4 separate regions of the Homo sapiens genome follow, and all the other regions are linked to region 2. The links come from fine-mapping of genetic effects on gene expression. A gene starts in region 2. Each other region holds a variant in brackets. All regions are shown on one strand. Distances are between the middles of the regions.

Region 1 (2,687 bases), 35 kb after region 2:
CGTGTCTGACAAGGTCACCTTTGTTAAATATGTTGAGTTTGCGATGCTATTATTGCCTTTCCAGGCATTCACATGAGGACAAAGAAGGAAGATTTATACTCTGGGTGATAATAGGCTCCTGGCAAAGCCCAAGTCAGTTGAAGACTCACTGCATCTAATAGAGAACTGGAAATGTATAGATTAATGAAGCAACCTATGACTCTCTGTGCCAGACTTTTCACCATTGCCGTACTCTTCTCTTTCACACCCTATGCCTACGTTTAACATGATGTTCCCGGTGCCTGGGATGAACTTTGCCTTCCTCTTTATGTAGTGAATTCCAACTTGTCCTCCAAGATCCAGATTAATTGCCATCTCCTCTGTGAAACCTTTGAACTTAGATTTACCCTCTTCTCAATACTGAGCTCAAGGTTCTTTTTACCACTCTTTATTTTAACACTTATACATTTTGATGCCATTTTTTTTAGTAAAATTACCATAATGGAAATGCAAAGAGAACAGGGAGATTTTAGTTTTATTTATTTGCAGTATCCTCAGGACCTTAAAAAACGCCTGGTACAAAGGAGCTGTATAAACATATGTTGAATGATCCATTTTTTAAGTATGTATAGACACATGGGCATGGTTTGGAGGAAGGAAACAAGATGAACCAAATATGGTTCTTATTATCCATATGATTCAGTTGAACTATGAGGACAGACATCAGAAGATATAGGCACTGGGATTGCAAAGAAGAAATACATGTTGAATTAGACAGAATACTTCCATTAATTTTTTATGAGCTATTTAGATATCATATGCCAAGTGTGAAATGATGACAGAGATCTGAATTGTAAATACATATTAAGAGAAAAAGTATAGAGAATTGAGATTGTCCAGATTTATCAAAAGAGGCAGGATATAAAGGGAAAGATTTAAGTAGCTGAAAAGAGATTTAGTATCAATGGAATGAAGGGATGGTGATAAAGAAGGTCATGCTTTGTGAGGAAAAATGAGCAGATCATTTATGAATAGAAATTCTGGACAATAAAGTTGAGAGATGAGCCAAACCTAGACTCAGAGTGGGTGACATTGCGCAAGAAAGACATTTAGCCTTCATGAGTTTCAGTTTCCTTATTTGTAATTTGTTAATAATAGCTTGGTTTTGCTGTTCC[A/G]CAGGATTGTTGTGGCACTCAAATGAGTCAGGATGATTCTGACATAGGCAGACATAAGCATTAAGAAACAGTAAGATGCGAGTTGGAATAAACATTATAATTTAAATAGAGGAAAAATACTGGAAGGAAATACATCTGAATTAACTGAACTTACAGTAGAAAGAAAAGATTATGAATGATTTTTCCCTTGAGTTTTCTCTATATTCCAAATCATTATTGAAGAACATATAGTAATTAAAATGCATTTTATTAAAAAAAAATCCTAGGTGCTGAGAAAGTAAGAGTGAATAAAAGAAACAAGGTTTGACTTCTCAAGGAGCTTACATTTTAGTAGGCACAGACAAAAGAATATGGCTATATAAGATAATTTTGGATAATTGCTCTAGTAGTGATACAGTGATGAAGAAGGGTGCTGCTGCTACACAGAGGGCCAAGGGAGAGCAGAGACCTATTTGAGCAAAGTCCTACATGCCGTATTAGGTGAGGATGTTATAGGCAGTGGAACAGGCAGCTGCAAAGCGCATAAGCAGAATGAGCTGCATGTGTTCAAAAAACAGAAGGAAAGTGAGTGTGGCTGGAACACAGGGAGGGAGGACGAGAGTGGTCGGAAGTGAAGTCAGAAAGATACACCAGGGCTCAATCATGAAGGACCTTTGAATTTACAGTGAGGACATTGGATTTTATTCTCAGTTCAATGGCAAGACATAAGTTAATAATATATATCTATGCATATATAGTAACACATATATGCCTATATATGTGAATTGCTGTATAATTGAACTGCTAAATGATAAAATGAACTCCATCATAATTTCCTGCCATTAAATGATCTGCCCAGGTCTAATTAATGGGGGAAAATGAGGTTGTTTTATGTACAGTCACGTGTCCTTTCCAGAATTAGGTATTTTAAAGGTGAAAGCAGTTTGGCATCATCTCTCCACGCTAATATGTTAGATGATTGATAACATATTCAAATAGCATTTATTGAGCTCTCCACAATGGGGTGAAGATAAATGTTGGTTGAAAACACCAGGTATTTTGCATGCCAATTCTGGATCTCTGCTTAATTTGCTGTTATTTTCTTTTGCATTTTTTTATTATTCAAAAATAAAAAGGAGCAATGGAGCATATGAAAAATAGATGTTAAGGAGAAAATTTGCAGATGTTAAGCTTTGCAGATTTTGCTATAGAGTATTTCAGAATGAGTATTTGTGTTTCTCTTCATGGCAGCACATTATTTGTAAGAAATAAAAAGCTGAATTCCTTGTGTGGACAAATCCCTGATACAGTGATTTTGGCACTTACAGAGGGACGTTAACTACTTAAAGTCCCCGTTGCTTCATCATTGACTTCATTATCATTTTGGAGCACTCTACAGAATCTGCTCCCTGAAATGCAGAGGCGCAATGGAAGAGCAAGCCTTTTTCTTCCGGCCTTTCAGTGCCTAAAACAATAGACATATGAAATACCATGCACTTGCAATGCTGCCTAGAAAGTAGGACATTTCTTTGTGAAAGCACATGTTAATGGAAC
Region 2 (2,687 bases):
TAAAACACAAATTCCTGTCTCACATTAAAGGAAGTGTCCTGCCTCCCAAACACAGGTCTGTTCCAAACACTTACTCACATTTCAGTGAGTCAGAAGGAAACAGACAGATATTCATCTCCCTGAAACCTGGCTGACTTCCTTCAAAAAGTCTGTAAGGAGCGTCAAAATCGTGTCACCGGTTAGTGAGCAGCCACCTAAGAGCTCTCAGGTGATAGCCGGAGTTTTAGTAAGCAGGTGAGTACCCCAGACAATTCAGAAAAAAATGCCTTCAGGTGTTTGTCAAGGTGAGTAAGTGCAGCCAGTAAGTGACTGATAAGAAAACAGGAAAGAGCCTGGGACTATATAATTTGGGTTCAAAGGGTATTAGTCATAAGCCATCAGCAGCAACATCTGATGCATACCAATTTAATACTTTAACAATGTGACACATCAGCCCTATCTATAGTAAAGAGAAGAGCTTGATTTTTATGAATTATTAAGTCCTTCCCACCTTGAGCCACTTTGCTTCCTAGAGGCAGTATCTCAGGCATCCCATTCAGCTCATAGTAGCATTCCATGAAGATCTGGAATGATGACAATAATGATGATTATTAGACTCATAACTCCTTAAGCTTGATTTATGAAAACAGTTCGTTCCTTCACAAAAGTAGTCACTGGAAGAATTCTGGTTTCAGCAATGTGCTGGAAATTTGTGGCCAAACTTTTGGATAAAACATAAGATTCAGACAAGAAAAATTAATATCCTATTTCTTAGGTTTTTAACTAAAAATCTCGGATATAGAATGTTCTCTTTCCAGATGTGAGACTGAAATAATGGAAGAAAATGGTCACAGTCTATGTCATGGTGTAATGTAGACAGGGAGAGTCACAAGTGCATGTATGGGCTCTCAGCCTTTTCTCTGGCCTTGAAGTTAATCTCCTAAACTCAGTCATTAAATCAGCTCTTAATTATCTCGGAGGAGAGGAAGTAATGATGATTTCTCTCTCTCTGTCTCTCTGTCACACACACACACACACACACAGCTCTTGCAGCAGGTATTGCTTAAATATCACCTTGGATAATCATAACTTGTGAGCAGATCTTCTTTCCTGATGAGTTAGTTTCTAACCTGGTCATTCTGCGCTTATTTTTGTCCCTTTCTCCACCCACTTAGGAAAAACAGAGAAAGGGACGCACCGCGCAGCCCCTAGGCACTGTGGTTTAGGGCTAGTGCCCTCGGCACCCGCTGCCAGGAGCCGGGCGCTGCCAAGGGCTGCGGAGGGGCCACGTTCTCCCGGGGACTGGGGCATCTCCTGCGTGCTGGCGACAGGCTGCGGGGGCGGAGTGGTGCCAGGGCGGGCGCTCGCCCGTCGGATATGCCCACCCGTCCCGTCCAGGGCAGGAAAGCCTGCCAGGGCGCCATCCCCATCCCCACCGCCTCCAGGCTGCCGGGGCTGGGCCGCTGTACGGGAGCCAAGGTGCGGTGCCCCGCGTGTGGACGAGCCGAGGTGCAGCCCGCGGGGCCGCAGGGCCGGGGTGGGGCGGGGCGCGGCCGGAGCAGATCCGGTGTTTGCGGAATCAGGAGGGGCGGGCTGGGGCGGGCCCTCGGCGCTGCAGGAGCTGCCCAGAAACTTTTCCCTGCTCTCACCGGGCGGGGGAGAGAAGCCCTCTGGACAGCTTCTAGAGTGTGCAGGTTCTCGTATCCCTCGGCCAAGGGTATCCTCTGCAAACCTCTGCAAACCCAGCGCAACTACGGTCCCCCGGTCAGACCCAGGATGGGGCCAGAACGGACAGGGGCCGCGCCGCTGCCGCTGCTGCTGGTGTTAGCGCTCAGTCAAGGTAAGCGGGGATTTCGCTCTGCATCGGCTGCAGGAGGGACCCGCGCGGCTTCCTGGGGCTCGCTGGAGGGATTGGGCGGAACTAGGGAGCGAGCTCCGTGTGTTCCCTCGGATTCCACGTGGACTCGGGCTCCCAGCCACCAGGACCTGCTTGGAAAGAGATACTTCTTCGTTCCCTTCCTGCTATCCCAGGCCTTGCGTCCCCATTAGGCGCGTCTCGCCCTGTCTGTTAAGCACCCTCCAAAGTCATCTCAGTGAGTGCTTTGTTTTAGGTACACACACGCACACACACACACACACACACAGACAGACACGCACGCACTCAAGCATGGACAGTGTGGGGATCCGCGGGTGTCCTGGAGACCGCGAGTCCTGCAGCCCAACTTCCCCTGGCTCAGACAGGTGCCGCGCCTGCCAGAGACCAGGGAAATCCGGAATCCATTGCTGATGGCGGCCTGCAGCTCCCCAGCGCGGTGCTTGCTGGCTTTGCAGAAGCCTGCGAGCCCCAAAATGCTTATTTTTCAACCCAAGGATGTGAATAATGCCTCTATTTCTTACTTGAGGACGAAGCGCTGTGTTTCTTCCCGGGGGGACTTGGAATAAACCAAGCGCCACTTAAATACTTGGCAGAGGGGAATTCTTCCTTCCCTTCTGCCTTCCTCTTATTGTTGTAACATTGTCTATTCGACGAATGTAAACTTAGGCTAGGAAAAGTTCTTTTCACTTCTGGATCCTAGATGCCGCAATGAGAGAATAAGCCGGAGCAGCCGCTCTAACTGTAGTGCTGTGGCAGTGGGGCCCGCCCACCTCCTGAGTTCTTTTACACTAAGAGGAGGAAATAAGGCTGGGGTGGAGAGCTTTTGTGGGAC
Region 3 (2,687 bases), 44 kb after region 2:
GCATTCTTTTTCCTTAAAGAGAGAGGAGAAATAGAAAGAACAAGTGTCATAGCAAAAAATAAAAATAAAAAAAATCCACCTATATATGAGCTTATAGTTTTAACTTTTTAATTGAGAAAAACTTTAATAAAGCTCTACATGTGTTATGAATATAGCATTGTCATCCACAGATGTGCCTATAGGAGAACTTTAAATAAAAAAAAAAGTTTAATTCTATAACAGACATCAAAGATTATGTCACGTGATACTTTGATAATAACACCACCTGGTATTTATTGAGTACTCTTTCCTTGCCAAACATGTAATACCCATAATTACTCTAGGAGCTTTGCAAAATTATTACCCCCTTTACAAATGAGAGGAGTGTGACTCAGAAATGTTAAGTAATTAACCTAAGATTACAGAGCTGATAATTAATAAAGATAGGGGAAGCTAATGCAAAATGAGACAAAATGTTCCAAACGTACATATTTTTGTAAGTATCCAAGAAGGAGAGTGACAGGATGTAGTTGGCATTTATAAATAATATTTAAATTTTATTTTAACATAAACTTTATGAAGTAAGAGAAACTTTCAGAATCTTGAATGAAAAATTCTGTTAGAGAATTTCCAATGTTAGCATCATTGGCTTTACCATCAGCTGTTTCCTGGGCAAAGATGATAGTTACCATCCATCTTTTCATCCTATCATAGACAGGAATTTCTTGTATGAATATACTCAGGAGCCGGAGCACAAGGGTTTTACCCTCAGCTTCCCCACCACTCCCTGGGTGACTTTGGGAAAGTCACACAACTTCTCTGGAGCAGAAAGTATGCCATCCTTATCAAACTGGAATGTTATGAGCACCTTGTGTGAGAATAAAAGTAAAGCACTTCAGGGCTGGGCTCGGTGGCTCATGCCTGTAATTCCAGCACTTTGGGAGGCCAAGGCGGGCGGATCACTTGAGGTCAGGAGTTCGAGACCAGTCTGGCTAACATGGTGAAACCCCATCTCTACCAAAACCATAAAAAATTAGCAGGGCGTGGTGGCAGGCACCTGTAATCCCAGCTCCTTGGGAGGCTGAGGCAGGAGAATCACTTGAACCTGGGAGGCAGATGTTGCAGTGAGCTGAGATCATACCACTGCAGTCTAGCCTTGGCAACAGAGGGAGATTCCATCTCAAAAAAAAAACTGGGTCCTCCCTACCTCTTCCTATCCCCTCAACCAATTCTCATCTGTCATGGATGAGCTTCCATGCATATTGGATTAGCTTCATGAAGTCCATTTCTTCTTCTTGGCCAAGAATGCTATTCTATTCCAATCCTCTTTCCAAAATAATCATGTCTTTGTCTTTTATGATATAGCCTTTTAAATATTAGCCAATTATCATCCTTTATATCTCTTTCAAAGATAAAAGTCTCTTACCATTAGGTTGTCCTGGCAGTGCCATTTAACATGCCAACTTCATTTATTCACAGAGTTTGCTTATATCTTATTTAATTAAATTAATTAATTAATTAATT[A/T]ATTTGAGACAGAGTCTCAGTCTGTCACCAAGGCTGGAATGCAGTGGCTCAATTTTGGCTCACTGCAACCTCTGCCTCCTGGGTTCAAGTGATTCTCATGCCTCAGCCTCCTGAATAGCTGGAATTATAGGCATGTGCCACCATACTAGGCTAATTTTTTTTTTTTTTTTTGAGACGGAGTCTCACTCTTTTGCCCAGGATGGAGTGCAGTAGGGCAATCTCGGCTCACTGCAAGCTCCGCCTCCTGGGTTCATGCCATTCTCCTCCCTCAGCCTCCCAAGTAGCTGAAACTACAAGCGCCCACCACCATGCCTGGCTAATTTTTTATATTTTTAGTAGACACGAGGTTTCACCGTGTTGGCCAGGCTGATCTCGAACTCCTGGCCTCAAGTGATCCCATCTCAGCCTCCCAAAGTGCTGGGATTACAGGCGTGAGCCACCGAGCCTGGCCCTCCTTTTATTTTAAATTCATAACATAAATATTCCTTTTCTTCTTCCATTCAATTTTATTTTTTACTCATAACTTAGTCCAGTGTTTGATTCTATAAAGACATTAGAAATCCAACTGTAATATATTCTTACACTTTTATTTTAACTTTAAATACTTACTGTTAAAAATTTTATAAATACTTATTATGCTATTGCTGTACAATTAAGCCATCCTCAGCACTATTAATACAGGTATCCAAAGTGGCATGTCTCATCTCAACAATGACAACCCCCCAAGAGGCGGAGGTTGCAGTGAGCCAAGATCACGTCACTGCACTCCAGCCGGGGCAACAGTGAGACTCCAACTCAAAAAAAAAAAAAATCTATAGTAGGAAGGACACTTTAAATATCTCCTGATTTGCTTCTTCGTTCCTTCACTCTGGATACAAGTTTGTGTGTGCACCTACAAACACATGAATACATACACACCCATTGTTTGTGACTTGCACGTGGGAGAGATATGTTGCTCCAGAATGTCTGCTGTGCTTTAATGATCTATAAAAATCCTCCATGCCTCACCAACAAGTCTTATAATTTTAAGCTTTCCTCTGTGGTAATGTGTGAATATCTGTTTCTGGAATAAAGTTCATTTACAAAGGTGACTGGGACTTACACACACACCTTCCTAGTATCTAGTTGTCTAAGACATTTACATCCATCTAACTCCATCTAAAGAAGGATCTGGGGAATGCTAA
Region 4 (2,687 bases), 28 kb after region 2:
AGTATTGATTTCTATTTTTATTGTGCTGTGGTCCAAGACTGTGGTTGGTATGATTTTTTTTTTTAATTTGCTGAGAATTGTTTTATGGCTGATTGTGTGGTCAGTGTTAGAGTATGTACCTTGTGCAGATGAGAAGAATGTGTATTCTATTGTTTTGGTGTAGAAAGTTCTTAGATGTCTATTAGGTCCATTTGATCAAGTGTCAATCAGGTCCTAAATATCTTTGTTAGTTTTCTGCCTCAATGATCTGTCTAATACTGTCAGTGGGGTGTTGAAGTTGCCCATTATTATTGTGTGGTTATCTAAGTCTTTGTAGGTCTCTAAGGACTTGTTTTATGAATCTGGGTGCCCCTATTTTGGGTGCATACGTATTTAGGGTAGTTAGGTCTTCTGTTGAATTGAACTCTTTACATGATATAATGCCCTTCTTTGTCCTTTCTGATTGTTGTTGGTTTAAAGTCAATTTTGTCTGAAATTAGAATAGCAGCCTCTGCTTTTTTCACTTCTCTGTTTGCTTGATAGATTTTTCTCCAACTCTTTGCCTTTGAGCCTATGGGTGTCATCACATGTGAGAAGGTTCTCTTGAAGACAGCATACACTCGGGTCTTGCTTCTTTCTCCAACTTGCCACTCTGTGCCTTTTAATTAGGGCATTCAGGCCATTTATACTCAAGGTTAACATTGATTTGTGCGGATTTGATCCTATCATCAAGTTAGCTGATTGTTATACAGACTTGATTGTGTAGTTGCTTTATAGTGTCAATGGTCTATGTACTTAAGTGTGTTTTTGTGGTAGCTGCTAACAGTCTTTCCTTTCCATATCTAGCACCCCCTTAAGGACCTCCTGTAAGGGAGAGGTCTGGTGGTAACTAATTCCCTTAGCATTTGCTTATCTGAAAAGATCTTATTTCTCCTTCACTTATGAAGCTTAATTTGGCTGGAAATGAAATTCTTGGTTGGAATTGCTTTTGCTTAAGAATTCTGAATATAGGCCTCAAATCTCTTCTGGCTTGTAGTATTTCTGCTTATAAGGTTCGTTGTTAGCCTGATGGGGTTCCCTTTATAGGTGACCTAGCCCTTCTTTCTGGCTGCCTTTAACATTTGTTCTCTATTTTCGACTTTGGAGAATCCGATGACTATGTGTTTTGGGGATGATCATCTTGTCTGGTATCCT[A/G]CAGGGGTTCTCTGCATTTCCTGAATTTAAATGTTGGCGTCTGCAATGAGGTTGGGGAAATTTTCACGGATGATATCCTCAAATATGTTTTCCAAGTTGCTTTCTTTCTTTCCCTTTCTTTCAGGGATACCAATGAATCATAAATTTGGTCTCTTTACATAATCCCATATTTCTTGGAGGTTTTGTTCATTCTTTTTTATTCTTTTTTCTTTATTTTTGACTGAGTTAATTTGGAGAACTGGTCTTTGAGCTCTGACATTTTTTCATCAGCTTGGTCTATTCTGCTGTTAATACTTGTGATTGTATTATGAAATTCTTGAAGTGAGTATTTCAGCTGTATCAGATGAATATTTCTTTCTTGAAATAGTCATTTTGTCTTTCAGCTCCTGTATTATTTTGTTGTATTCCTGAGATTCCTTGGATTGGGTTTTGACTTTTTCTCCTGAACCTTGATGATCTTCATTTCTATTCATATTGTGAATTCTAGTTCTGTCATTTCAGCCACTTCAGCCTGGGTAAGAACCATTGCTGGGGAACTAGTGCTGTTGTTTGGAAGTAAGGAGACATTCTGGCTTTATGAGTTGTCAGAGTTCATGGGCTGTTTCTTTGTCATCCGTGTGGGCTGATATTCCTTCAGTCTTTGAAATTGCTACTTTTTGGATGGGTTGTTTTTTGCTTTTATCTTCTTTGATGCACTTGGAGGATGTGATTGTGGTGTTTAGTGAACTGGCATTGTCTCTGTAAGATTATAGGGAGCAAAGGCTCAGCCCTGCACTCCTAGGCTTCATACTCTAACTCTGAGGAACTGGCATTGGGCCCCCCCGCTTTGTTCTCTGGTCTTTCAAGGTTAGGCATCTGCTGCACTGGAGGGGCCAAAGTGTTCATGCTCTATATTGTCCACAACACTCCGATGGGGGAATGCCAGCCAAAGCTCTTTGTTGGGGTGGTGGCAGCAGGATCCATCGTCACTTTTATGTGACAGCAGCTGTGGCAGCATGGCCGTGTGCCCATGTGTCAGCTGGGGTGGGGCTCCAGAAGGAGCAGGGTGGCAGCAACCTGCTGGCGGTGCATGGTAGCAGTACAGCAGGGGCAGGGCACCAGTGGGGATGAGGTTGCCAGTATTCCTGTGTGCATTCATGCCAGCATAGCAGGCTGCCCACACATCAGCTGGGGGTATGGTAGGATGAGCATGCACTGGCAGGGGAGGAGAGACAAGGTCTTCTGGCATGTGTGGGCCAGCAAAGCAGTGTTGGGGGGATGTGGAGGGGTGTGAGGCATGGGTAAGCGCATGCTGGCAAAATGCTGGGGAGAGGCTGCGGTTGGGGAGGCTGTGGCTGGGGGAGGCTGCAGGTAAACCATTATGCATCGGTAGGGGCTGTTCTGCTGGAGCCCTCTGATGGCCAGGCATGGTCTGTCAGTGCAGGAGCTCTGATGAGGTGCCCTAGGAAGCACTCTGGTTGGGCATCTGAAGCTGCTCTGCAAGAGGCCATGGTCAGGCTGGAGCTCCAGGAAAG

Direction of the effects. Alleles are on the strand shown, and positions count from the first base shown. SD is a standard deviation of normalised expression in the study named. Not every link is listed here.
For the expression in platelets of the gene that starts at base 1,639 in region 2, allele A in region 1 goes with a lower level than allele G (large effect, 0.83 SD a copy in CEDAR).
As copies of T replace A in region 3, the expression in Th1/17 cells of the gene that starts at base 1,639 in region 2 goes down (large effect, 1.0 SD a copy in Schmiedel 2018).

What was found. PIP is the estimated chance that this variant, and not a neighbour inherited with it, causes the effect.
Region 1: its variant is the best candidate, but not a certain one, in a credible set for the expression of ITGA2 in platelets (CEDAR, PIP 0.78).
Region 3: its variant is the best candidate, but not a certain one, in a credible set for the expression of ITGA2 in Th1/17 cells (Schmiedel 2018, PIP 0.83).
Region 4: its variant is the best candidate, but not a certain one, in a credible set for the expression of ITGA2 in blood mononuclear cells (TOPMed, PIP 0.70).

The regions. Positions count from the first base shown.
Region 1 is chr5:53,023,045-53,025,731 of GRCh38, forward strand. All of the region lies in intron 1 of ITGA2 (integrin subunit alpha 2), which reads left to right. It overlaps LOC124900974 (a long non-coding RNA gene), which reads right to left. Exons shown (of 2, transcript XR_007058767.1): 2 at 503-2,687. Among named protein-coding and RNA genes, the nearest start is that of ITGA2-AS1, 34 kb to the left of the region's middle. The variant A/G (reference allele first, on the strand shown) is at 1,155.
Region 2 is chr5:52,987,714-52,990,400 of GRCh38, forward strand. ITGA2 (integrin subunit alpha 2) reads left to right here and starts at 1,639. Exons shown (of 30, transcript NM_002203.4): 1 at 1,639-1,819. The coding sequence starts at 1,756. It overlaps ITGA2-AS1 (ITGA2 antisense RNA 1), which reads right to left and starts at 2,573. Exons shown (of 4, transcript NR_186583.1): 1 at 2,377-2,573; 2 at 491-563. RefSeq lists an enhancer at 1-978 and a silencer at 1,443-1,592.
Region 3 is chr5:53,032,108-53,034,794 of GRCh38, forward strand. The region is part of intron 2 of ITGA2 (integrin subunit alpha 2); the gene reads left to right. All of the region lies in intron 1 of LOC124900974 (a long non-coding RNA gene), which reads right to left. Among named protein-coding and RNA genes, the nearest start is that of ITGA2-AS1, 43 kb to the left of the region's middle. The variant A/T (reference allele first, on the strand shown) is at 1,504.
Region 4 is chr5:53,015,419-53,018,105 of GRCh38, forward strand. All of the region lies in intron 1 of ITGA2 (integrin subunit alpha 2), which reads left to right. Among named protein-coding and RNA genes, the nearest start is that of ITGA2-AS1, 26 kb to the left of the region's middle. The variant A/G (reference allele first, on the strand shown) is at 1,174.